4 linked regions of the Homo sapiens genome follow. The protein of the gene in region 3 purifies or fractionates together with the protein of the main gene of each other region. This does not show direct contact. Each region holds a gene or a part of one and is shown on either strand. Other genes may lie near its edges. The genes, in order: EEF1A1, MKKS, EEF1G and EEF1A2.

What was found.
Region 1: the proteins of EEF1G (region 3) and EEF1A1 purify together in Homo sapiens (affinity purification with mass spectrometry; 7 studies listed by BioGRID and IntAct, with this or other methods). This does not show direct contact.
Region 2: the proteins of EEF1G (region 3) and MKKS purify together in Homo sapiens (affinity purification with mass spectrometry; 3 studies listed by BioGRID and IntAct, with this or other methods). This does not show direct contact.
Region 4: the proteins of EEF1G (region 3) and EEF1A2 purify together in Homo sapiens (affinity purification with mass spectrometry; 6 studies listed by BioGRID and IntAct, with this or other methods). This does not show direct contact.

What each region holds. Positions count from the first base shown.
Region 1 is NC_000006.12:73,518,015-73,524,869, forward strand, and holds the start of EEF1A1 (elongation factor 1-alpha 1), read right to left. Parts: upstream 3,019-6,855; 5' UTR 2,986-3,018; intron 2,043-2,985; 5' UTR 2,013-2,042; coding exon 1,869-2,012; intron 1,503-1,868; coding exon 1,323-1,502; intron 1,215-1,322; coding exon 918-1,214; intron 835-917; coding exon 684-834; intron 597-683; coding exon 340-596; intron 251-339; coding exon 16-250; intron 1-15. UniProt on the Homo sapiens protein: Translation elongation factor that catalyzes the GTP-dependent binding of aminoacyl-tRNA (aa-tRNA) to the A-site of ribosomes during the elongation phase of protein synthesis.
Region 2 is NC_000020.11:10,400,490-10,403,239, reverse strand, and holds the end of MKKS (molecular chaperone MKKS), read left to right. Parts: 3' UTR 1-2,231; downstream 2,232-2,750. UniProt on the Homo sapiens protein: Probable molecular chaperone that assists the folding of proteins upon ATP hydrolysis. Plays a role in the assembly of BBSome, a complex involved in ciliogenesis regulating transports vesicles to the cilia.
Region 3 is NC_000011.10:62,563,864-62,570,899, reverse strand, and holds part of EEF1G (elongation factor 1-gamma), read left to right. Parts: intron 1-3,371; coding exon 3,372-3,501; intron 3,502-3,828; exon of another isoform or gene 3,829-3,889; coding exon 3,890-4,094; intron 4,095-7,036. UniProt on the Homo sapiens protein: Probably plays a role in anchoring the complex to other cellular components.
Region 4 is NC_000020.11:63,496,071-63,503,209, reverse strand, and holds the start of EEF1A2 (elongation factor 1-alpha 2), read left to right. Parts: upstream 1-4,126; 5' UTR 4,127-4,152; intron 4,153-4,586; exon of another isoform or gene 4,587-4,928; intron 4,929-5,375; 5' UTR 5,376-5,446; coding exon 5,447-5,590; intron 5,591-7,139. UniProt on the Homo sapiens protein: Translation elongation factor that catalyzes the GTP-dependent binding of aminoacyl-tRNA (aa-tRNA) to the A-site of ribosomes during the elongation phase of protein synthesis.

The sequences.
Region 1 (6,855 bases), on a different chromosome or scaffold from region 3:
AGTAGTCATCCTTACCCAAAGGTGGATAGTCTGAGAAGCTCTCAACACACATGGGCTTGCCAGGAACCATATCAACAATGGCAGCATCACCAGACTTCAAGAATTTAGGGCCATCTTCCAGCTTTTTACCAGAACGGCGATCAATCTTTTCCTTCAGCTCAGCAAACTTGCATGCAATGTGAGCCGTGTGGCAATCCAATACAGGGGCATAGCCGGCGCTTATTTGGCCTGGATGGTTCAGGATAATCACCTTGGAAAAAAGATTTGCATTCAGTGCAAATCCAAAGTCTCAAATGACTTTAGCCTCTGCAATAAGTTAATGTTACTTTAAATTGTTACCTGAGCAGTGAAGCCAGCTGCTTCCATTGGTGGGTCATTTTTGCTGTCACCAGCAACGTTGCCACGACGAACATCCTTGACAGACACATTCTTGACATTGAAGCCCACATTGTCCCCAGGAAGAGCTTCACTCAAAGCTTCATGGTGCATTTCGACAGATTTTACTTCCGTTGTAACGTTGACTGGAGCAAAGGTGACCACCATACCGGGTTTGAGAACACCAGTCTCCACTCGGCCAACAGGAACAGTACCAATACCTAAAAATATTTACAGCATACTAAATACCTATGAAGGCAGACAGTACTCTATCAACTCAAATTCAACTTTGTTTACAGCCAACTTACCACCAATTTTGTAGACATCCTGGAGAGGCAGGCGCAAGGGCTTGTCAGTTGGACGAGTTGGTGGTAGGATGCAGTCCAGAGCCTCAAGCAGCGTGGTTCCACTGGCATTGCCATCCTTACGGGTGACTTTCCATCCCTTGAACCAAGGCATCTGAAACACAAGCATGCCAATTTGTGTAAGCATGAAATCGCCATTCCCAGAGCTTTTTAACAATGGTCTTGAAAGCCACTTACGTTAGCACTTGGCTCCAGCATGTTGTCACCATTCCAACCAGAAATTGGCACAAATGCTACTGTGTCGGGGTTGTAGCCAATTTTCTTAATGTAAGTGCTGACTTCCTTAACAATTTCCTCATATCTCTTCTGGCTGTAGGGTGGCTCAGTGGAATCCATTTTGTTAACACCGACAATTAGTTGTTTCACACCCAGTGTGTAAGCCAGAAGGGCATGCTCTCGGGTCTGCCCATTCTTGGAGATACCAGCTTCAAATTCACCAACACCAGCAGCAACAATCAGGACAGCACAGTCAGCCTTTAAAGAAAGCAAAGACATATCCCTGTCAACTCTCCAAATGACAAAACCAGTGTACAAAGCAAGCCTTTTGGGATAAAGAAACCTAGAATTATTAATCCCACCAACCTGAGATGTCCCTGTAATCATGTTTTTGATAAAGTCTCTGTGTCCTGGGGCATCAATGATAGTCACATAGTACTTGCTGGTCTCAAATTTCCACAAGGAGATATCAATGGTGATACCACGTTCACGCTCAGCTTTCAGTTTATCCAAGACCCAGGCATACTTGAAGGAGCCCTTTCCCATCTGTAAGGATTAAGAGTCGTTACTTGGTTACTAAAACACAAACTCCAGCTTCAATTTCCTTGTCCCCAGCCCTTAATTGGCAGTTTCCACTTTACAACTCCAAGTCCAAAGTGATTTTAGTCACTTTGGGTTACAGAAGCAACCAAAAATCAAACTTTTATAAGTCGGATCTTAACTATTAACATCCAAATCTACTCACTAGCAATACGATTACAGAAGTCACCAAAAGCAAAATTATTTCATAAGTAAGGTCTTAACTATTAGCATTCAGATCTAAACCACTCACTAGTTCTGGGGAAATCACCTAATGATTCTGCTGGTAAAACTCATTTTAGTTGATCTTTCCCTTTCTGGTATTAAACATACCTCAGCAGCCTCCTTCTCAAATTTTTCAATGGTTCTTTTGTCGATGCCACCGCATTTATAGATCAGATGGCCAGTAGTGGTGGACTTGCCCGAATCTACGTGTCCAATGACGACAATGTTGATATGAGTCTTTTCCTTTCCCATTTTGGCTTTTAGGGGTAGTTTTCACGACACCTGAAATGGAAGAAAAAAACTTTGAACCACTGTCTGAGGCTTGAGAATGAACCAAGATCCAAACTCAAAAAGGGCAAATTCCAAGGAGAATTACATCAAGTGCCAAGCTGGCCTAACTTCAGTCTCCACCCACTCAGTGTGGGGAAACTCCATCGCATAAAACCCCTCCCCCCAACCTAAAGACGACGTACTCCAAAAGCTCGAGAACTAATCGAGGTGCCTGGACGGCGCCCGGTACTCCGTGGAGTCACATGAAGCGACGGCTGAGGACGGAAAGGCCCTTTTCCTTTGTGTGGGTGACTCACCCGCCCGCTCTCCCGAGCGCCGCGTCCTCCATTTTGAGCTCCCTGCAGCAGGGCCGGGAAGCGGCCATCTTTCCGCTCACGCAACTGGTGCCGACCGGGCCAGCCTTGCCGCCCAGGGCGGGGCGATACACGGCGGCGCGAGGCCAGGCACCAGAGCAGGCCGGCCAGCTTGAGACTACCCCCGTCCGATTCTCGGTGGCCGCGCTCGCAGGCCCCGCCTCGCCGAACATGTGCGCTGGGACGCACGGGCCCCGTCGCCGCCCGCGGCCCCAAAAACCGAAATACCAGTGTGCAGATCTTGGCCCGCATTTACAAGACTATCTTGCCAGAAAAAAAGCGTCGCAGCAGGTCATCAAAAATTTTAAATGGCTAGAGACTTATCGAAAGCAGCGAGACAGGCGCGAAGGTGCCACCAGATTCGCACGCGGCGGCCCCAGCGCCCAAGCCAGGCCTCAACTCAAGCACGAGGCGAAGGGGCTCCTTAAGCGCAAGGCCTCGAACTCTCCCACCCACTTCCAACCCGAAGCTCGGGATCAAGAATCACGTACTGCAGCCAGGGGCGTGGAAGTAATTCAAGGCACGCAAGGGCCATAACCCGTAAAGAGGCCAGGCCCGCGGGAACCACACACGGCACTTACCTGTGTTCTGGCGGCAAACCCGTTGCGAAAAAGAACGTTCACGGCGACTACTGCACTTATATACGGTTCTCCCCCACCCTCGGGAAAAAGGCGGAGCCAGTACACGACATCACTTTCCCAGTTTACCCCGCGCCACCTTCTCTAGGCACCGGTTCAATTGCCGACCCCTCCCCCCAACTTCTCGGGGACTGTGGGCGATGTGCGCTCTGCCCACTGACGGGCACCGGAGCCTCACGCATGCTCTTCTCCACCTCAGTGATGACGAGAGCGGGCGGGTGAGGGGGCGGGAACGCAGCGATCTCTGGGTTCTACGTTAGTGGGAGTTTAACGACGGTCCCTGGGATTCCCCAAGGCAGGGGCGAGTCCTTTTGTATGAATTACTCTCAGCTCCGGTCGGGGCGGGTTGGGGGGGGTGGTGACGGGGAGGCCGCCTGGAAGGGACGTGCAGAATCTTCCCTCTACCATTGCTGGCTTAGCTCCAAAGGTTGTATTGAGATTAGGGTGTACCTTCGCCTCTCAATCAGCCTCCCGTCCTCAGCCTTGCCATCTCGCTAGTCCGGGACAAATCCCTAGAGCGTCTTCCTCTGCGGGTCTCAGCCCAGCCCGGGGTTGGCTCCTCCTCCGCCCCGGCTTCCGCGCCCCTCCCGTGTGGCAAGGAGTACCAGGCCCGGGGACCCCGAGGGGCTTGGGGCGAAGGGTCGGGACTGGGGGCCTCCTTAACGGCTCACGGACTTGCGAGAGGTTCGGCTCGATGGCCGTGAAAGCGACGAATCCGCTCCTGTGCTGGCCTCTTGGCTCCTTCCATTCAAAGCCAGCTGCTTTTATGGAAGCCCGTAACACGTCATCTCCCCCTGGTACTCCAGATGTCCAGGCTTTCAGTTTAGAATAGACTCAGTCCTACAGTTAGCTTTAGATCTAATTCTAGTTTTGTTACGCCAAAAAGTTCCTGCGAGTGTGTGTGTGTGCCTCATGGTACTTTTTAAATTAAAAGGTGTACAGTTATTTGATTGCAAACATAAGGAACCTAAAATGCTTTCAGATTTTCCACATGATCTCATGTAGAGGCTAAGATCTACAGCATCAGCAAGTTTATCCACCCAGTTTCCTAACCCCAACACTTGCTATGAAGTCACAGCTTCTCCTATTTAAATAAGTGCCTATTATATTTAAATAAGTGCTGTCGTTTTCTGTCATCCTATCGATTGTAACTGCATTTTAGCATAAATCTAGGGCAAGATTGGATGAGCTTGGCCTTTTTGGATGGCTATCAAGGCAGGCCTTGGGAAATGCTCCTCTGAGGAAAGAAGAACGTTTATTTTTAATGAGCTAATTACTAGATCATTATGTTTCTTCTTCCAGCTGTAGAATATCATTGCCCAGCTTCTCGAACAAACTTATTTATTAACAAGTATTTGAGAACCTACTATGTGGCCAACGCTAAGTACTGTGGAGTTCCTTCTGGAGAGGAAACCACAATCAAATTGGAAGAGGAAAACAAGTTGGGAAGCAGTTGAAGGCAAACGCTATGGTGCTTTCTTGGTTTCTGTATCTTTGTAGTGTAGTTTTTCTAGTCCTTTCAGTTTTCACAGTCCACTTTTTTTTCTTTCTTTCTTTTTTTTTTTTTTTTTTGAGACGGAGTTCTACTCTGTTGCCCAGGCTGGAGTGCAGTGGCGCGATCTCGGCTCACTGCAAGCTCTGCCTCCCGAGTTCAAGCGATTCCTCCTGCCTCAGCCTCCCAAGTAGCTGGGACTACAAGCGCGCCCCACAAATTTTTGTATTTTTAGAAGAGACGGGGGTTTCACCATGTTGGCCAGGCTGGTCTCGAACTGCTGACCTCAAGTGATCCACCCGGCTCGGTCTCCCAAAGTGCTGGGATTACAGGCGTGAGCCACGGTGCCCGGCCACAGTCAAAGTTTTTCCTCAAGCCCCTGTGATTGCGGATAATAGTAAACGCTTTATAAATACCTTACACAGAATGTTTTTTAAAATATCACGCAAGGAATGACAAAATTACATGAATCCTTGATTTATACCTAAGTAACATATTGTGCAACACAGACTGGGTGTTCTGAATGTTGCGATAGTGGCCGAGACTTTCATTAGGTGAAGGGAGATCTCAATTCTCGCGTTTAAGAACCAACACTGGACCGGGCGCGGTGGCTCACGCCTATAATACCAGCACCTTGGGAGGCCGAGGCGGACGTATAATTTGAGGCCAGGAGTTCGAGACCAGCCTGGCCAACATGGTGAAACCCTGTCTACTGAAAATACAAAATTAGCCGGGCGTGGTGGCGCATGCCTGTAATCCCAGCTACTTGGGAGGCTGAGGCAGGAGAATCGCTTGAGCCCGGGAAGCGGAGGTTGCAGTGAGTCAAGATCACGCAATTGCACTCCAGCCTGGGCGACCGAGTGAGACCTTGTCTCAAAACAAAACAAAAAACCAATACCTTTGAGCCCATCGGAGCCATATTATTGTGCGTTAGGGGTAGTCACTGGCCACGAGCATTTTCTCAGGGCAGAGATCACATTTCTGCTCTCAGTGGGGCCGGGGTGGGCCGGAAGCCGGAGAGGGACTGGAACGCCGGTCCGGGGAAGCCCCGCGCGCACCGGGGCGCACCCTGCTTCCTAGGGAGGGAGGCTGGGGCGGCAAGGCGGGCGCGGGTGGTCCTTGCCCCGCGCCAGCTCGCCAGGCCACGTCGCTGGCGTTTTTCCAGCGCTGGGTCACCTGCGGGCCGGCGGGTTCCCGCGGCGAACAGCTGGGTGGTATGGATACGCCGCTCGAGCCTCCGCAGCGTCAGGTCGCCAGGGTCCGCCCTGCCACTCGCCCCACCTTGAGGTAACTTTTCTTCCGCCTTCTGACTGCGGAAGGAAGGGCCTGGGAGGAAGCAGAAAACCTCACGTGGCTCGGGGTGAGGGTCGGTTTTTGTCACCGTGAGCTGGCCTCTAAAAGACTTTTTAAGTCCCAAGTCTTCTTTTTCTTCTTATTTTAAATCCCTTTTTCCCCAGACCCTATGTTTTCAACATAATCATAACGGATTCCCCGCACCCCTACGCCTTTACAGAGATCCAGTATGCTTTTTACTGCCTTAAATGTTAAAGCGGTAACAGTAACGATGTTGAGGCTCGTAAATGTGTTTTGGGGTCATAATCTAAGGTAGTATTTGCTGAAGATTTTTCTTAAACTTGCTCATAACCATTTAGAGTGACAAACTTAAAATACATTGTAAGTAAAAATCAACATGACCCCTTTTAGGAAGAAAAACAAAGATTTCAGTTATTTACATAGGAATAAGGCAAACAAGAATAGTTCTTTGAGGTACTTAATTGTGATTCACCAAGCTTTCAGTATAGTCTGACCACTCTGCTATTAGTCTAATTTAAAGCAGCCTTAAATAGTTACATTTTACCATGGCTTGCCACGTGAAAATGATTTTTAAATCTTTTCATCTGCTGTAGCTACCTCTGAAGAAAAGATGATGGCCCGGTGCGGTGGCTCACGCCTGTAATCCCAGCACTTTGGGAGGCCGAGTCAGGCGGATCACCTGAGGTAAGAGTTCGAGACCAGCCTGGCCAACATGGTGAGACTCCCGTCTCTACTAAAGATATAAAAATTAGCCAGGCTTGGTGGTGTGCACCTATAATCACAGCTACTTGGGAGGCTGAGGCAGGAGAATTGCTTGAACCCGGGAGGAGGAGGTTGCAGTGAGCAGAAATCGTGCCACTGCACTCCAGCCTGGGTAACAAAGTGAGACTGCATCTCAGAAAAAACTATATATATATATATATATATTTTTTTTTTTAAAGGGGTATTTTAGAATATGATTAAGCCAAGGAACTATTTGGACTGAGAATCCAATTTTTTTTTTTTTT
Region 2 (2,750 bases), on a different chromosome or scaffold from region 3:
GGTAAAAAGATGAGTTTGTCTCTTGATGCCTTCTCTCTCAATGGAAGCCAGCTGTCATGTTGGGAACTGCCCCCTGGGGAGGCCCACATAGCAAGGGTTGAGGGAGGCTTCTAGCCAACAGCTCAAAAGGAACTGAATCGTACCAATAACCACAAGAGTGAATTTGGAAGCAGGTTCTCCCCAGTGGAACCTTGAGTTGAGTATAGCCCTACCACTGGAGCCACACGAGAGACCCTGATGCAAAAAAGCCAGCTAAGCTACTCCCAGGTTGGTTCCTAACCCACAAAATCTGTGAGATAATAAATGTTGTTTTAAGTCAAATTTGGGATGTACTTTCTTATACAGCAATAGCTATCTAATAAAGGCAGGAGGAAAAGCTTATTTGTAATAAATTATTTACTGAAAACTTGGTCACATAAATGGAAAAAAGCATTCTTGATGCCATGCCTTTGCATTTTTATCATCACCCCAACCTAAAAGAAGGGTTCTTTATCACATGTGTTTACAATGTGTCACATAGGAGTTGGGTATTGTCCTGGTTCTCTTTGCCCTTATCCTGCATTTTTTCAAGTTCCTCCAAGAAGGGGTGACACAGCGAACCTCTCCAATTGATCTTATAGATTAGGGGCTTCTACTTTTCACGATAGCCACTTTTTAAATTCTATCATTTTTAGCTTTGCCATACAATTTGATTACATTCCTTAGTGAAACATCAATGCTCTTATTTTGAATATATCACAAATTCGTTAAAATATATTTACAAATACCTCTATGTTTCCTAAAGTTATAATAATCCCTAGCAGAAAACACTGGAAATAGAAAAAAAGAGAAAAAAAACCTTCCTCTATAGTTCAAGAAAATTAGCGTTCAAACTTAGATGATAAAACATGAAATGAAAATTCTTGATGAAAATAATTTTAGAGGAGTTCCTTTTGGCAGAAATAAATGATAAGTAAAAATAGCAACTAAGGTAAGCCTCAGGCAGTGTTTTGTGACTTAAAGTAAGATTGAGGTCTGAATATTGCATTATGAAGTACCTCAGGAGAGAGAATGGGAAACCGTGATCGCTGTGGAAAAGGAAAGGGAGAGTGTGAAGAAGAAAATGAAGTCGGTGACAGCTGCTCAATAATTTCGTGGGACTCTCAGGACATGTAACATTAAACGTTATTCAACCATAGGAGTCCAACAGGATTATCATCTTATTAATCAAAAGGCATTAGGATTTTAGCAGCAAGGAAGAAAGTGGAGAGCTACAGCAAATAAAGGAAACTTTTAATCAAATACTTATTTGGTCTTATAGATATCCTACCCTTTAATTCTTCCATTTGTACCATATTAGAGAGTCTTTATATGTTAGACATTGTAAGTCAACTGTTAGACTGAAGCACTTTATGTAAGTGAAGTATTTTACACAAGATATTTAAACTATATCACATTAATATCTTTTATTATAGGTATCCTTGAACTCATTTGGTTTGTATTATCAAAGCTACTTAGGCATTTACATTGTAGACAAGAAATTTGAAGTAACCATAAATCAGCCATTGTACTATGTATTTTCATATTGTTGTTCATATTGTTGAGCAGTTCTTTGGATAACTTTAAAATAAAATAATGTTGTTTACCATCACATACATTATGCAGGTTATTTAAAATTATCATGTAAAAAATCAATGCAGGCCTTGACAAAACATACAATTAGTTAGGTTATTCCTTCCTGATAATCTTTGGGGAATAGTCAAAGAGACTAAACATCTCCTACAAGGCCCTGTTTCAGCTGTCTAAATAAAGCTATCTCTTAATCTGAAGGAAAAGTCAATTTTGAATATCTGATATCTTTATAATTTTTTTCATGTAGCTAAGTGCTTCCATTTAGTAACTATTGTATCCCATAATGGAAGTTTTTGCCAATCATCTACAGAATTTGAATTTAGATGCACCTAAACCCAATGTTAGCCTACTTTTGGATTATAAGTAGATTTATATGCTGCTTTACTAAGAATATAGTAATATTCATGAAAGAGAATGCAATCCCTGAAAACTATTCCTAAATGTAAGTGAAGCTGTTTGTTGGAGAGACGATTAGTCTTGGCGCACTAAAATCCATAGAATACTATATTACCTGTAATGAAGTGTGAATTTAGAGGGAAATAAAACAGCTTGACAATCTCCTATTAAAAATTCTCTTTGAGAAAATACTTATAATAAACATCTTATTTTAGCCATCTTGATTTTGTTTCTAGTATTGTGGTTTGATTTTGGGAAGTATTAATTGAGCCCTTTCTGTTTGCAGATAGGATAGTCAAGCGTATTTGGCGGTGAGAAGAGGAAAAAACAACACAGAAATTTGTTCACAGTCTCTGGCCTCAACAAGTTGATCATCTAGCCAGGGAGAATTTTTTTTTTTTTTTTTTTTTTTTTTTTTTGAGATGGTGTTTCGCTCTTGTTGCACAGGCTGGAGTGCAATGGCGCGATCTCAGCTCACTGCAACCTCCGCCTCCTGGGTTCAAGGATTCTCCTGCCTCCGCCTCCCGAGTAGCTGGGATTACAGGCATGTGCCACCATGCCCGGCTAATTTTGTATTTTTAGTAGAGATGGAGTTTCTCCATGTTGGTCAGGCTGATCTCGAACTCCTGACCTCATGTGATCTGCCCGCCTTGGCTTCCCAAAGTGCTGGGATTATAGGTGTGAGCCACCGCGCCTGGCCGAGATTTTTTTTTTTAATTATTAATTTTATAAGTTAAACATGT
Region 3 (7,036 bases):
TCTAGGTTACCCTGTATTCTGCTGAGGACTTGGAAAACAGCTAGAGGTGGGTGCAGTGGCTCATGCCTGTAATCCGAGCACACTGGGGGGCCGAGGTAGGCAGATCACCTGAGGTCAGGAGTTTGAGACCAGCCTGGCCAACATGGTAAAACCCTGTCTCTACTAAAAATACAAAAAATTAGCCAGGTGTGGTGGCGCACACCTATAGCCCCAGCTACTTGGGAGGCTGAGGCACAAGAATCACTTGAATCTGGGAGGTGGAGGTTGCAGTGAGCAGCGATCGCCCCACTGCACTCCAGCCTGGGTGAGAGTGAGACTTCGTGTCAAAACAAACAAAAAACAGCCAGGAATCCCAGGACTGAGTACCATCACTTGCTTTCCATTCTCTTAAGAAGCTGGGTAATGTCTTGCCTTTAGTTTCTGTTTGGCAGCTAAGATGTTTAGTTTGTTGCCATATTTCCTGGGAAGATTGGTTATTCTTAGTTGTGAAGACAGAGGTGATGATGGTAGCTTCAGCATTAAGATCTTTTTGGAGGCAGGCCAGGCACTGTGTCTAACACCTATAATCCCAGCACTTTGGGAGGCCTAGGCGGGTGGATCACTTGAGGTCAGGAGTTCGAGACCATCCTGGCCAGCATGGCGAAACCCTGTCTCTATTAAAAATACGAAAATTAGCCGGGCGTGGTGGTAGGAGCCTGTAATCCCAGCTACTTGGGAGGCTGAGGCAGGAGAATGGCTTGAACCCAGGAGGTGGAGGTAGCAGTGAGCCAAGATCCAGCTACTGTGCTCCAGCCTGGGGGACAAGAGCGAGACTCCATCTCAAAAAAAAAAAAAAAGCTCTTTAAGCTCTTTTGGAGACAGATACAGGTTCAAGCCTTGGCTTCATTGTTTACCAATGTAGGTAAGGGGTTATATGCGGGTGAATTCCTTTAGTCCTGTTTTTTACTCTTTGCAATCTATAAAATCAGGGTAGTAATAATCACTGTCAAGGTTATTGGGTCAAAAAAGAATGACAAGTCACTGGTTTCCAAATAAAAGCTCTTGGACTGATGCTGGTCCAGAATAGTAATGTGATCATAGCAAAAGAAAAAACACTTACTGCATGCCAGACCCTGTGCCAGGGGCCTCATGGGGATCATCTTAGTGAGTGAATCTACTAAGTGGTAGAGTAGAATTTGAACCCAAGTACTGTGGAACCAGCACTCTGACTGCTGTGTTCTGTTTCCATGACAAGATTTTTTTTCCTCTTCTGGTCTTTGCAAACTAAAAAATGACAACAGTTCTACCTGAAGCTTTGCAAACTGAAAACTGACAACAGTTCTACCTGAAGCTGTTTATTCTTATTTTTCTTTGACCATGCTTAATACACCAGACACTAAGTTTAATTTGAAGGACTGTCCATTATTTATTTATTTATGTATTTATTTTGACAGAGTCTTGCTCTGTCACCCAGGCTGGAGTGCAGTGGCACGATCTTGGCTCATTGCAACCTCCACCTCCCAGGTTCAAGCGATTCTCCTGCCTCAGCCTCCCAAGTAGCTGGGATTACAGGCATGCGCCACCAAACCCGTCTAATTTTGTATTTTTAGCAGAGATGGGGTTTTGCCATGTTGGTCAGACTGGTCTTGATCTCCTGAGGACCTCAGGTGATCCACCCGCCTCGGCCTCCCAAGTGCTGGGATTGCGGGGGTGAGCCACCACACCCAGCCAGGACTGTCCATTATTCTAAATGCGTTTGAATATTTTCTTTGAATGTTCTTTACTTTCTGAAGTTTGATGGATGGGTGGGTGTGGGGGGTGTGTGTGTGTGTGTGCGTGTGTGTATAGTATGGCCAATATAGATAGTAAATACCTATAGTGTTTAGATTTTATTTGGCAAAAAAGTCCTCGATAGCCCTCTGTGGGTCTCAATCTTTTTTTTTTTTTGAGACGAAGTCTCGCTCTTGTCCCCCAGGCTGGAGTGCGATGGCGCGATCTCGGCTCACTGCAACTTCTGCCTCCCGGGTTCAAGTGATTCTCTTGCCTCAGCCTCCTGAGTAGCTGGGATTACGGGCATGTGCAACCATGCCTGGCTGATTTTTGTATTTTTAGGAGAGGCGGGGTTTCACCATGTTTGCCAGGCTGGTCTCGAACTCCTGACCTCAGGTTATCTGCCCGCCTCGGCCTCCCAAAGTGCTGGGATTATAGGCGTGAGCCACCGCTCCTGGCCGACGTTTGAAATTTAAAAGATTGGAAACAGTAGATCTGAAATAGTTTTGTAAAGGAGCAAGACAATTATTACTCCTACTCCTAAATGGAGGATGGACCCAAGCATCCATCCATTAAACTGGACTACACTGAAAAAAAAGATTAGAAAAAGAAATGGAGGCCAGGTGTGGTGGCTCACGGGTAATCCCAGCACTTTAGGAGGCCAGGGCAGGAGGATTGCTTGAGCATGCGAGTTCAAGATAAGCCTGGGCAACATAGTGAGACCCCATCTCTATTAAAATTTTTTTTTTTTTTTTTTTTTTTTGAGACAGAGTCTCACTCTGTCACCCAAGCTGGAGTGCAGTGGCGTGATCTCGGTTCACTGCAACCTCCACCTCCTGGGTTTAAGTGAGTCTCCTGCCTCAGCCTCTGGAGTAGCTGGGACTACAGGCACGTGCCACCACGCCCAGCTAATTTTTTTTTTTTTGAGACAGAGTCACTCTGTCACCCAGGCTGGAATGCAGTGCCGCGATCTCCGCTCACTGCAAGCTCCGCCTCCCGGGTTCACGCCATTCTCCTGCCTTAGCGTCCCGAGTAGCTGGGACTACAGCTGCCCGCCATCACGCCCAGCTAATTTTTTTATTTTTAGGAGAGATGGGGGTTCACCGTGTTAGCCAGGATGGTCTCGATCTCCTGACCTCGTGATCCGCCCGCCTCGGAGATCCCAGCAGTTTGGGAGGCCGAGGTGGGCGGATCACTTGAGGTCAGAGTTCGAGAACAGCCTGGCCAACAGGGCGAAACCCCATCTCTACTAAAAGTACAAAAATTAGCTGGGTGTGGTGGCAGGCACCTGTAGTCCCAGCTACTCAGAAGGCTAAGGCATGGGAGGCTGAGGCACGAGAATCACTTGAACCCAGGAGATGGAGGCTGCAGTGAGCTGAGATCACGCCATTGCACCCCAGCCTGAGCGATAGAGTGAGACTCTGTCTCAAAAAAAAAAAAAATTGAAAAAAATGAAGAAATGGGAAGTAATCCAGGGAAGGATGATGTTGTATGAAGCTATTGTCTATAGGGTTTGAAAAGAAGGTGAGCACTGGGACTTAGGTAGAGCAAGGACTCTTGCTGTGAACAGAACTCTTCAGGGCCTTTCCACTGACTTTGTTTACACCCTTATGTCCTGGCAGGTTCTAGAGCCTTCTTTCCGCCAGGCCTTTCCCAATACCAACCGCTGGTTCCTCACCTGCATTAACCAGCCCCAGTTCCGGGCTGTCTTGGGCGAAGTGAAACTGTGTGAGAAGATGGCCCAGTTTGATGGTGAGTCTGAGGAGACTGGGAGGCATATGGCCAGGATCAGGGTCTGGTTTGCTCTGCATCAACCCCTTGATTTCCTGTCTTGCTTTTGGGTTATGGGGACCTGCAGAATGTAGGGTGTCAATGTGGTAGCTAATATTATGTGCAGTTTCGTGTACACTCATACCCTGACTAATTTGTATTACTATATAGATTTGCGATATAAAGTATTTGTTGCTGAGTGTGTTGTTGCTGGAGGACACACAGTGAACTGATGAGCAGTCTGGGGCCTAAGTTCCTTACTTGTCCCATTCGTCAGTTTCCTCTGTTACCTTGCTTGCTCTGTGTGGTTTTGGAGGGGTGTGGAAAGAGGCAGAACATTCGTTCACTTTCCTGCCTTCCTCTGCACCAGCTAAAAAGTTTGCAGAGACCCAACCTAAAAAGGACACACCACGGAAAGAGAAGGGTTCACGGGAAGAGAAGCAGAAGCCCCAGGCTGAGCGGAAGGAGGAGAAAAAGGCGGCTGCCCCTGCTCCTGAGGAGGAGATGGATGAATGTGAGCAGGCGCTGGCTGCTGAGCCCAAGGCCAAGGACCCCTTCGCTCACCTGCCCAAGAGGTAAGGATATTGGAGGGTGGAGGGTGTGGGACCAAAGAAGGCCTGTTCTCACCTCTGTATGTCCCCCCTCACACACAGCTAGAGCCAGAATTTTAGGTTGTCCATATAAAGTTAAAGGTATATTTTAGTTGCAAATAAAGCAGCTTTCTGGCTGATAATCAGGAATTGGGCAAATTTTGATTGTGGAGAGCAAGTTTCAAGTACAGCCAGTACTGGGGAAGATTGAACTCCTATTCCAACAAAGACAGGAACAGATTTTGATATAGTGGTAAGTTGGTTTTGAGCAAGCTCATTTGACCATTTGAGAGCTCTGAGAACAAATACAGGGAGAGGCGTGGGGAGGAAGAAAGTGCAGAGAGCCTTGCGGTGCGCCACGCGCCCGGCTGTGCGGAGATAGTGGATGCCAGAGCAGGGTCCTTTGAATTGTTTTGTTTTCTGTTTTGCTGAATCAGACTGTACAAAAATTGCTCACTAAGAAAAAGGATGAAGATCATAGCTAAGTAGTGTCTGTCTAGTTCATTGTTCCACAACCGAGTAAAGTCCCCAAGTAGAAGAAAGTAGGTGTCCTCTGTATCCCTTTTTCAGTTAAAGGTAGGGCTTCTTGGAAGAAATAATATAGTAAAAACGAGATTTTTGGCATGAAAAATGTAGGACGCTGAGTGCTTGCCCAGTTCTCTGGGATGGAGTCTTTCTTCCATCACTGCTCCAAGTCATTTTATTGGGAGTTCAAGCAGTTTGAGAAATATATATTCTGTGGTCACTTTGCTTTGGAACTCCTCTTTCTCTGTACTTTTTCCTCCCACTCACCCTGTCATTTCCAAAGCCGTTCATCTTTTTACTGCTTGGTCTGCTAGGGTTTACATTTCACCCTCTCCCATCTTGTAATGGCTTGGATACCGGGTGAACCAGCCTAAAGGAGCACCCACTGGTAGGGACACAGTAGCTGTGCATAGAATTGTGAATTACAAGCATTGCACTAATAGATGGGAGCAACTTGGGGTATAGCTGAAAGTTCTTACTCCCGGGTATTTTGTACAAGACCAGGAAGGCTCCATCCAGACACAGGCACTCTTTAAAGATGTATTTTTTGAACTAGTGATTTGCCTTGAATTTAGCACAGGTGCAGGTCAAGAGTGAGCAGGATTTTTGGTGTGTGTAAATAGGTCATGATAATTAACCCAAATTACATATTGTGTTGTAACTCAGACGTTGTTAATTATTAGCTAGAGATTTTCACATATAGTAGGTCAGTACTCTGGGCAGGAAATAAATGAGGCAGTAGTAAACTTAAAATCTTTATTTAATAAACTTTACATTTTCTTAACATGGTTTTGGGAATGTTTATTAATGTCTATTTATTGGGTTACCATGATGCCCTACAGGGCTGCCAGAAATGCTTTCCCCAAGGTTTTTTTTTTTGGAAACAGGGTTTTACTTTGTTGTCCAATCTGGAGTGCAGTAGCGTGATCACGGCTCACTGCAGTCTTGACCTCCTGTACTCAAGCGATCCTCCCACCTCAGCCTCTGGAGTAGCTGGGACAAAGGCACACACCACCACACCCAGCTAATTTTTTATTATTTGTAGAGACTAGGTCTCACTATGTTGCCCAGGCTGGTCACAAACTCCTGGGCTCAAGTGATCCTTGGCCTCTCAAAGTGCTGGAATTACAGGTGTGAGCCACTGTACCTGGCTCCTTTTTGTGTTTTTTGTTTTTTTTTGGTTTGTTTGTTTGGAGACAGAGTCTCACTCTGTCACCCAGGCTGGAGTGCAGTGGTGTGATCTCAGCTCACTGCAACCTCCGCCTCCCCAGTTCAAGCGATTCTCCTGCCTCAGCCTCCCGAGTAGCTGGGACTACAATGACAGGCGCGTGACACCACGGCTGGCAAATTTTTTGTATTTTTAGTAGAGACGGAGTTTCACCGTGTTAGCTAGGATGGTCTCAATCTCTTGACCTCGTGATCCGCCCACCTTGGCCTCTCAAAGTGGTGGGATTACAGGTGTGAGCTACCGTGCCTGGCCCCCTTTTTTTTTTTTTTTTTTTTTTTTGAGATGGAGTCTGGCTCTGTCGCCCAGGCTGGGATGTAGTGGTGCAATCTTGGCTCACTGCAACCTCCACCTGCCGGGTTCAAGCAGTTCTGCTTCAGCCTCTTGAGTAGCTGGGACTACAGGCACGCACCACCATGCCCAGCTAATTTTTTGTATTTTTAGCAGAGACAGGGTTTCACCATGCTGGGCAGGCTGGTCTCGAACTCCTGACCTCGTGATCCGCCCGTCTCCGCCTCCCAAAGTGCTGGGATTACAGATATGAGCCACTGCTCCCGGCCTTTTTTTTTTTTTTTGTGAGACAGAGTCTCACTCTGTTGCCCAGGTTGAAGTGCAGTGGTGTGATCTCGGCTTACTGCAGTCTCCGCCTCCTGGGTTGAAGCAATTCTCCTGCCTCAGCCTCCCGAGTAGCTGGGGATTGCAGGTGCGTGCCACCATGCCTGGCTAATTTTTGTATTTTTAGTAGAGATGGGGTTTCACCATGTTGGTCAGGCTGGTCTCAAACTCCTGACCTCAGGCAATCCGCCTGCCTTGGCCTCCCAAAATGCTGGGATTACAGGCGTGAGCCACCGCCCCTGGCTCCCCCAACATTTTTAATGTCATAAAAGTGATATCCTAAAAGACCAAGACTATTAATGTCCAGATTTTAATTCTAGTTCTTTTAAGACCCAGCTAGGTCAACTGCAGTGGCTCATACTACTTGGCAGGCTGAGGTGAGAGGGTCACTTGAGTCCAGCAGGTTGAGGCTGCAGTGAGCCATGATCGTGCCCCTGCACTTGGGTGACTGAGCAAGACCCTGTCTCAAAACAAATAGCTTGAACAGTTCAGGAGGGTGTGAAAAAATTCCCAGCCCCAGTTTTGGTGTGGTTGAGGTTTTAAGGCTCCTCAGATGAGGTCT
Region 4 (7,139 bases), on a different chromosome or scaffold from region 3:
GCCTCTGGGCACTGGAGGGCACAGCGCCCCTGTGCTGGCACCAGGGGCTGCCCTTCTTGGGTCCAAGAGGTGACCCCACCCTGGTCGGTGACCCCGGCCTCCTGTTTAGCCTCCCAGCCTGCAATGGGCTGTAATGGCCAGGGGCCGGGAGGGGCTAGCGGGGACTGCAGCTGGAAGCCCAGAAGCCCAGAAAGTGCTGCTTGCGGCAGGAGCACGTGCTGTCTGCTCCCCACCAGGGTGGGTGCTGGGCTCCCGGGCAGCAGGGCCTGGAGGGAGGGCATCCTGCTGCTGCTGCCTCTCACCATGGCAACGCTCCCTGCTGGGGCCTGCAGGTCGGGGTGGCAGGCCAGGCCGCCCTTCCCCCTGGCGGAGGGGCTGCATCCCTCCTGGGCCTCCCTGGTAGACTCAGGTCTGCCTCAGGCACACCCAGATACCGGGTTGGAGGGTGGGCTGTCGGGGCCGTGGCTGGCCCTGGTCTGTGGCCTGACCTGCAGGCATGTTTGCCCGCTGCCAGCCCAGCCCCAGCTTCTCTGATCTGGGGGGACATGAGCTGCTCCTCTAAGGGAGGCTCCAGAGGCAGGAGCTCCTCTGCTGCCATGGAGACTGTTTAATTCGCTGCCTCAAGGGCATGCTCAGTCCCCTGGGAGCCAGCCCCAAGGCATGGCCGCGGGGGTGGGCCTTGTCCTGGTGGCCGTCCAGGGGGCCCAGGTGGGCCAGCAGACGAGATGCTCCGTGACCGGAAAATGAATCCACACCTGCTCTGGGGCCAGGCCAGGGCTGAGGTCATCCTGTGACACTGGGGGCCAGAGAGCGGCCTTGGCCTTGCTCCCCACCCTGCCTCCAAGCCCCTGTCTGCCTCTGGGCTGCCAGCCTCCACCTGCCTGCGACGGTGGCCCCGGGGTGATGGCCTGGCTGTGCCCCATGCACAGGTGGTTCGTTAGGCACTCGGCGGCTATTATTAACCCAGCAGTGACGTCACCGGCAGCCAATGGGAGGCAGGTTTATTTCCAGGGCTGACAGCTTGATAGCGGTTAATTTTAGCTGCATCTTCTTTCCCGAGGCTCGTGAAACCCTAGCCAGCCAAAGAAGGGGTTGCCTGTGTCTCCCCAAACAGCTCAGGGATGGGTCCTGGGGGCTCTGGGAGGCGGCAAGGAGGGGCGGGGCCTGGGGGCTCTGGGAGGGGTCGAGGAGGGGCGGGGCCTGCCCCCAGGGAAGCCCTGATTGGCTGGTGCCCTCTTGACTCGCCATTTCCCCTCCCCCCACCCCCCCCAGGTTGTTGGTGAGGACGGCACTGTGACCAGGGACTCAGATGCAAGAAGAGGGGCCCAAGTCCTGACCTGGGGGAGGGCAGGGAAAGCACAGGCCACAGGCCCCCTTACTTGCTGCGTGTCCTTGGACAGGAATCTTGGCCTTTCTGTGCCCAGTTGCCTCACAGGTTCTCAAGGTCCTCCAGCCAGCCTTGTGGGGCCTACCTTGTAGCCTCTGTCCCCGCAGCCCCCATCCCCGCACACTGTGCACGTGCACGGCCCCCTGTCCCCCGTCCCCCACACTGTGAACTCACACAGCTGGGCGACTTGGCTGTGACTAATTAGGATGCTTGGTACTTGAAGTCATTTGGTGCTACCCGGCCATTGACAAGTGTTTTGCCTGCTTGTTGTGCTATGACAGAATACCTGAGACTGGGTAATTATACATTACTTAAATTTAAACATTTATAAAGTTTGCTTTATAAATTTATAAATTATTATAAGTAAACAGAAGTTTATTTCTCAGTCTGGAGGCCAGGAAGTCCAGGATCAAGGTGCTGCCATCTGGTAGGGCCTTCTTGCTGTGTCCTCACATGGGAGAAGGCGGAAGAGCAAGAGAGAACCCACTGCCATGAGTCCTGTTTATAGGGCACAAATCCATTCGGAAGGGCAAACCCTTTATGACCCAGACTCCTTCCCGAAAGCGCCAGCCCCCAACACTGTTGCATTGGGGATTAAGTTACAACTCGTGCACTTTGGGGACGTGGTCAGGCCACTGCCGTTATTCAGCAGTTAGCATTCCGTAGTTAGTAGCCATTCAGTCCTGTTCAGTCTCCGCGGTGGCTCGGAACCATCAGTGTGTTAGTGTTTAGCCTTGTGACCGCAGCCCCGTTAGCTGTGTGTTCCAAGTGTCTGCGGAACTGAGTCGGTGGCTCCCAGGACCCCGAGGGGCCACACCGTGGACCAAACGTGTCCTGGCGCCTGGGAGACCCTTTGGAGCAGCCACCGACACCCTTGCCCAGAGTCAGCACACAGGTGCTTTGGGGAGGTTGCCACATTCCACTCTCAGGGGCCACTCCTGTGGGTGGCAAGGCCCCACGGCACATGTGAGCCCCTGGCACTGCTATGGGTGAGCCGGGAGCCGAGGGGGAAGGGGTGTCTGGAAAAGGTAGCCCAGAGTCCTGGTGATCCCTTGGGGGAGTGGGGTGGGCATCCCCGGGACCCCGGCCTGGGCCACTCGAGCACCTGCAGCAAGCCCACTTCCAAATCCCTGCCTAACCTTCAGGCTGCAGGGGAGGCGTTAAATATAGAGACCAGCTGGGTGGGGTGGGGCGGGCCTTGCTTTCTTGCCAGGCGGTTATTTTTATTCCTGGCTCCTGTTTGACGGCATCGGCAGCACTCGGAAGTGCCGGGGCACCTAGCAGGCCCTCCCTGCCTCCTCTCCTGCCTGTGGCCCAGGAGCCCAAGTCCCTGGACTCCTATGGGGCAGACGCAGCCACAGACCAGGGTCCTCCTGAGAGGCCCTCTCCACAGGCTGGGGAGAACTGTTTGGCCCCGACCCTGGGCCCCCACCTTTCCTTCCTCCTCACACCTGCCAGCAGGCCAGGTAGGGGTCCAGTCGCTGGGGATCCCCATGGATTTGCCCAGTCGCAGCTGCTGGGCCCGACCCGGGGCCTCCATGTCAACACCCAGTGGGAACTCAGGGCTGAGAGGACAGGTGCCAGGGCTCTGCCCCCACTCAGCACACACCTCCCGAGACCCCGCTGGCAGGAAGATCCGAGTGCGTGGGGGTGGGGGGGCAGCGTGGGAGGGAAGACCTGAATACCTGGGTGAGACGACAGGATCTTGGGGTCTGGAGAAAGCCCCTAACCTTGGTCTTCACACAACACATGGCTGCCACATCCCCTTCCTCACAACCCACGTTGGTCATTACCCGCGTGTGCCAGGACCTCAGGGACTCCCCACTTCCTACAGAGCGTGGCCCGGTCTTTGGCTTGGCATCCTGACCCCATATGAGCATCAGCTACAAGGCGCTGAGGTGCAGCGGGGTGGGGCGCTGGGCGGGGGGGCCTGGGTCTGTCTGGATCTGACTCGCCCTTGGCTGGCGCTGTTTCCCAGCAGCAGCCGGAGGTCGGCGCACCCGGAGGGGAGGGTCCCTGGAAGATGTCAGTGGGTCTGGGAGCGGGCTTCCGGCGTTCCCTGCACCGTGGGAGACCAGCCTCTCAGGGGGAGGGTGGTTCTGCGCTGGATCCTCGGGGCCTGTCATGGTGCGCCCAGGAGGGCAGGCACGTGAGGACAGGGACTGGAAACCAGCAGATTTCCACCCTGAGGCCTGCACCCCCGGGCCTCATTAGGGAGAGCCCCTCAGAGCCGGGCTTCGTTGGTTCTGGGGCGTCCCCCATGAGCAGGGCCGGGGAGGGGCCGGTAGACCCAGGCTCGTCTCCCAGGCTGCAGCCCACCTGCTCCCCTCCCCCGCCTGCCGGCTCCGGTCCTCGGCGTCTGCCCTGTCCCCGGGGACCGCTTTTCGCGGCTCAAGCGTGTTCCTGCCCTGAGCCGGCTCTCGCCCCGTCTCCCGGGCCCGCCGCGCTCTCCCCGCGCCGTCTCCGTCCCGGTCCCTCCCTCCCGCCGCCTCCCTGCCCTGCCCCCCGCCCCGCCCCCGCCCGCGGCGCGTTTCTCCCCCGCCTCCCGCGTCCGTCTTTGCAGCCCGCGCCTCCCGCATCGCCTCGCGTCCCCGTGGCGCCCGCCCGCGCGCGTCCGCGCCCCGCCCCCTCCCGCGCGGTTCCGCATTGGCGTGCTGCAGGGCGCGGTGCACTGCGCCGCCACCGTCAATAGGTGGACCCCCTCCCGGAGATAAAACCGCCGGCGCCGGCGCCGCCAGTCCCTCTGGCTGAGACCTCGGCTCCGGGTAAGGACGCTCGGCCCCCGGGCCTCCGCCCCCGCCCCCGTCTTCCGAAGAGGGACCCCCGGGGCCGGTCCTGGGGGGCAGAGGGTGGCCGGGCCCCGCACCCGCCCCCGCGCGCGCCCGGAGTCCGGCTTCCGGGGGTCCCCGCGTCGGCCGGGCTGGGCCCGGGGTGGGGGGCGGCGCGGGGCGGCGGGGCCGGGTCCTGGGCGGCGATCGCCCCGTAGCCGTGACCTTGGGGCCGCGGGGACCCTGCGGGCCGGGGGCTGATGGGGGTCGGGCTTCGGGGCGCTGGGCCAGAGGACGCTGAGGGAGGTGGTGAGATCTGGGGGCCCTGGCCTCCCCACCCCCACCCGTGTTCCCACCCCAGGGTGGCTTCTGTCCTCTTTCCCTCCCCCAGCCACCTGTCCGCGAGGAGCAGCGTGGGTTTCTCCACTGACCTCTGTGATGGGACAGGGCTGTGACCCAGGGTCCTGAGTCACAGGGAGGGGGGGAGGGAGGGTGCCCCCTATACCCCCACGGGGCCGAGGGCATCTCCACCTGGCACTTGCTGGGCTCGGCAGGGCCGGGTCCTCCTTCCTCAGGCTGGAACAGGGACCCCCACCTCCCGGCCGCTGTCTGTCCCTGTGAGAGTCCGGGAGGGGGGTGCCTAGAGCTATTCTGGGTTCCTAATCTGGGCAGCGCATCTCCGTCGGGGCTCTGGCCCAGCCTGCCGGGCAGGGATGAGGGGAAGATGGCGCCGTCCCTGCCTGAGGAGGGGAGTGGGGAGCAGTGGCCATCTCTCCCCGGTGGCAGCGGGTGGGGGTGGGGCGCCGTGTCCCTGGCCCTGCCGCCGGGGAGGGGAGTGCGCGTGCAGGACAGGGCCCTGGAGCGCTGGGCAGGTGACTCATCACCCGGCTCTGCTGGTCACGGACGTACCCAGCCTGGCGCTGCGTGGTCTCTCCAAATGGTGGCTAACCCCTTCCCAAGGAGCAGCCCGCGGGCTCCAACGCCCAGTTATTTACAGCAGATGGGGCTGTTTGGGCTCAAGTGTGGGGTGGGGGCAGTGCACAGCCTCTGCTTGCCCTGGCCAGGCCCAGCTGTGGGTGGGGGCCCTTCCCTCCCCACCAAACATGGGGGCTTGGTTTGTGGGCAGGGATGCCTGTCCAGCCTGTGCCAGGACAGTCTCTGCTGGTGTCTCCCCCTGGGGCTCCCCATCACCGGTCTCCCCACCACCACTGGCCCCACAGAATCACTGCAGCCCCCCTCGCCCTGAGCCAGAGCACCCCGGGTCCCGCCAGCCCCTCACACTCCCAGCAAAATGGGCAAGGAGAAGACCCACATCAACATCGTGGTCATCGGCCACGTGGACTCCGGAAAGTCCACCACCACGGGCCACCTCATCTACAAATGCGGAGGTATTGACAAAAGGACCATTGAGAAGTTCGAGAAGGAGGCGGCTGAGGTGAGCTCCCCAGGCTATGGTCTTGGCCCCCTGAGAAGGAACCCCCAACTCCCGTGGTGGCCAGGCTTGGCATCTCCCAGCCCCAGGGCATGGGGCTCAGGTGACCTCCTCCAGGGCAGGAGGGACCCCCGCTGTGGGGCACTCAGGCCTCAGAGGGTCTGGTGGGGCAGCCTCTCTCTTAGGGGGAGCTTGGTGGGGGAGGGGTGGCCATCGAGCTGCCGGACTTGCCCTGTGGTGAGGGAGGTGACCTGGGAGGGTCTGCAGAAGGCTCTGGAACTCTGCCATGTTGAGCTGGGGCTGGAGGGCGCTGGAGCCTTACCCCCTTCCCCCCAGGGCCAAGGCTGGGGCTGGAGATGGTACTGCCCTCACTTGTCCTAGGGCCCTGCCAGGGCACACGCTACTATTAATAGCTGATTGATGGGCAGCCGGCCCGTCTGCTCCATTTTCTTGTGCTGGGCTGTGGAGGGCTGCTGTCCAGGGCAGCCCTGGGGTGGGGGTCCTGGATGAGGTGACCTCCTAGCTGACCTTTTGAAGCGATTTCTCTTTGGTGGCTGAGACGGTGGTGGGGAGCGGTCATGAGACGGGGTCTGCTCTCTGATCCCCATCCCCCACCCAGGACTCTGGGGAGAAGCCCACTCCTGGGAGGGCCTGTGGGAGCTCTCACCTGGATGATGAGGGCGGAGGCCAGGGCCCAAGGTGGGGGCACTCGCTGTCCTGGGCTGAGCCTCTGCCCTGGCGGGGTTGGGGGTGCTCTGAGCTGCACCCCTGAGTTTGGGCTGCATCACCCTTTACCTGGCCTTGTCAGGAGGAGGCGGGGGTTTCAGAGGGCCGCTGTTTCAGGCCCCAGCTGGGTCCCATCTGGGTCTGCTCCAGACTGGGCAGCCTCCTGGAGGGCAGAGTCCTGTCTGTGCGAGGCCCTGGCGAGGAGTTCTGCCCAGCTGGGTAGTGACCGCCGCTGCTGCCCTGACTGAAGCCCGTCCCCTTCTGTGGGGGTCTCACTGGCCGAGGCCCCCCAGCTTCCCGTGTCCGGCAGAGCGAGGAAGGGGAGGAGAAGCCTCAGAGGGATGGGGAGGCTGGAGCAGCGGGAAGGAGCTGCGTGGCCAGGCCCTCCTCCTGACCTCATTCAGTTTTCCTTTCTCCTTACCTTAAAAAAACACACACACACAGAGGGTTATTTATCTGACAGCCCCAAACACGGTGGTATTATTGGCCTCTGGTTGAGGAAGGGATCTGGGGGCGTCCGCAGCTTCAGATAAAGGGGAGCCCTCGCCCGGGAGGGGTTTATCCCATCTGGCGGCTTCGCTCGTAGAGCGAGCGACTCCCAGGCCCTTGCGCCACCTGCTGGTGGACCTGCGTAGCCGCGCCCATTTCGGAGCAGGTGCGGAGGCCGGCCCTGGGGGGCAGGGTCTGGGTGTGGGGTCCCGACGGAGGGGGCCGGCGTCCCAGGACCCCGACGGAGAGCAAGGGGGTGCTGGAGCCCATCTCCCGCCTCTCGCGGCCACTCTGCTGTAACAAGCAGCTCGCACCACCAGGGACTCCTGGGTCCCGG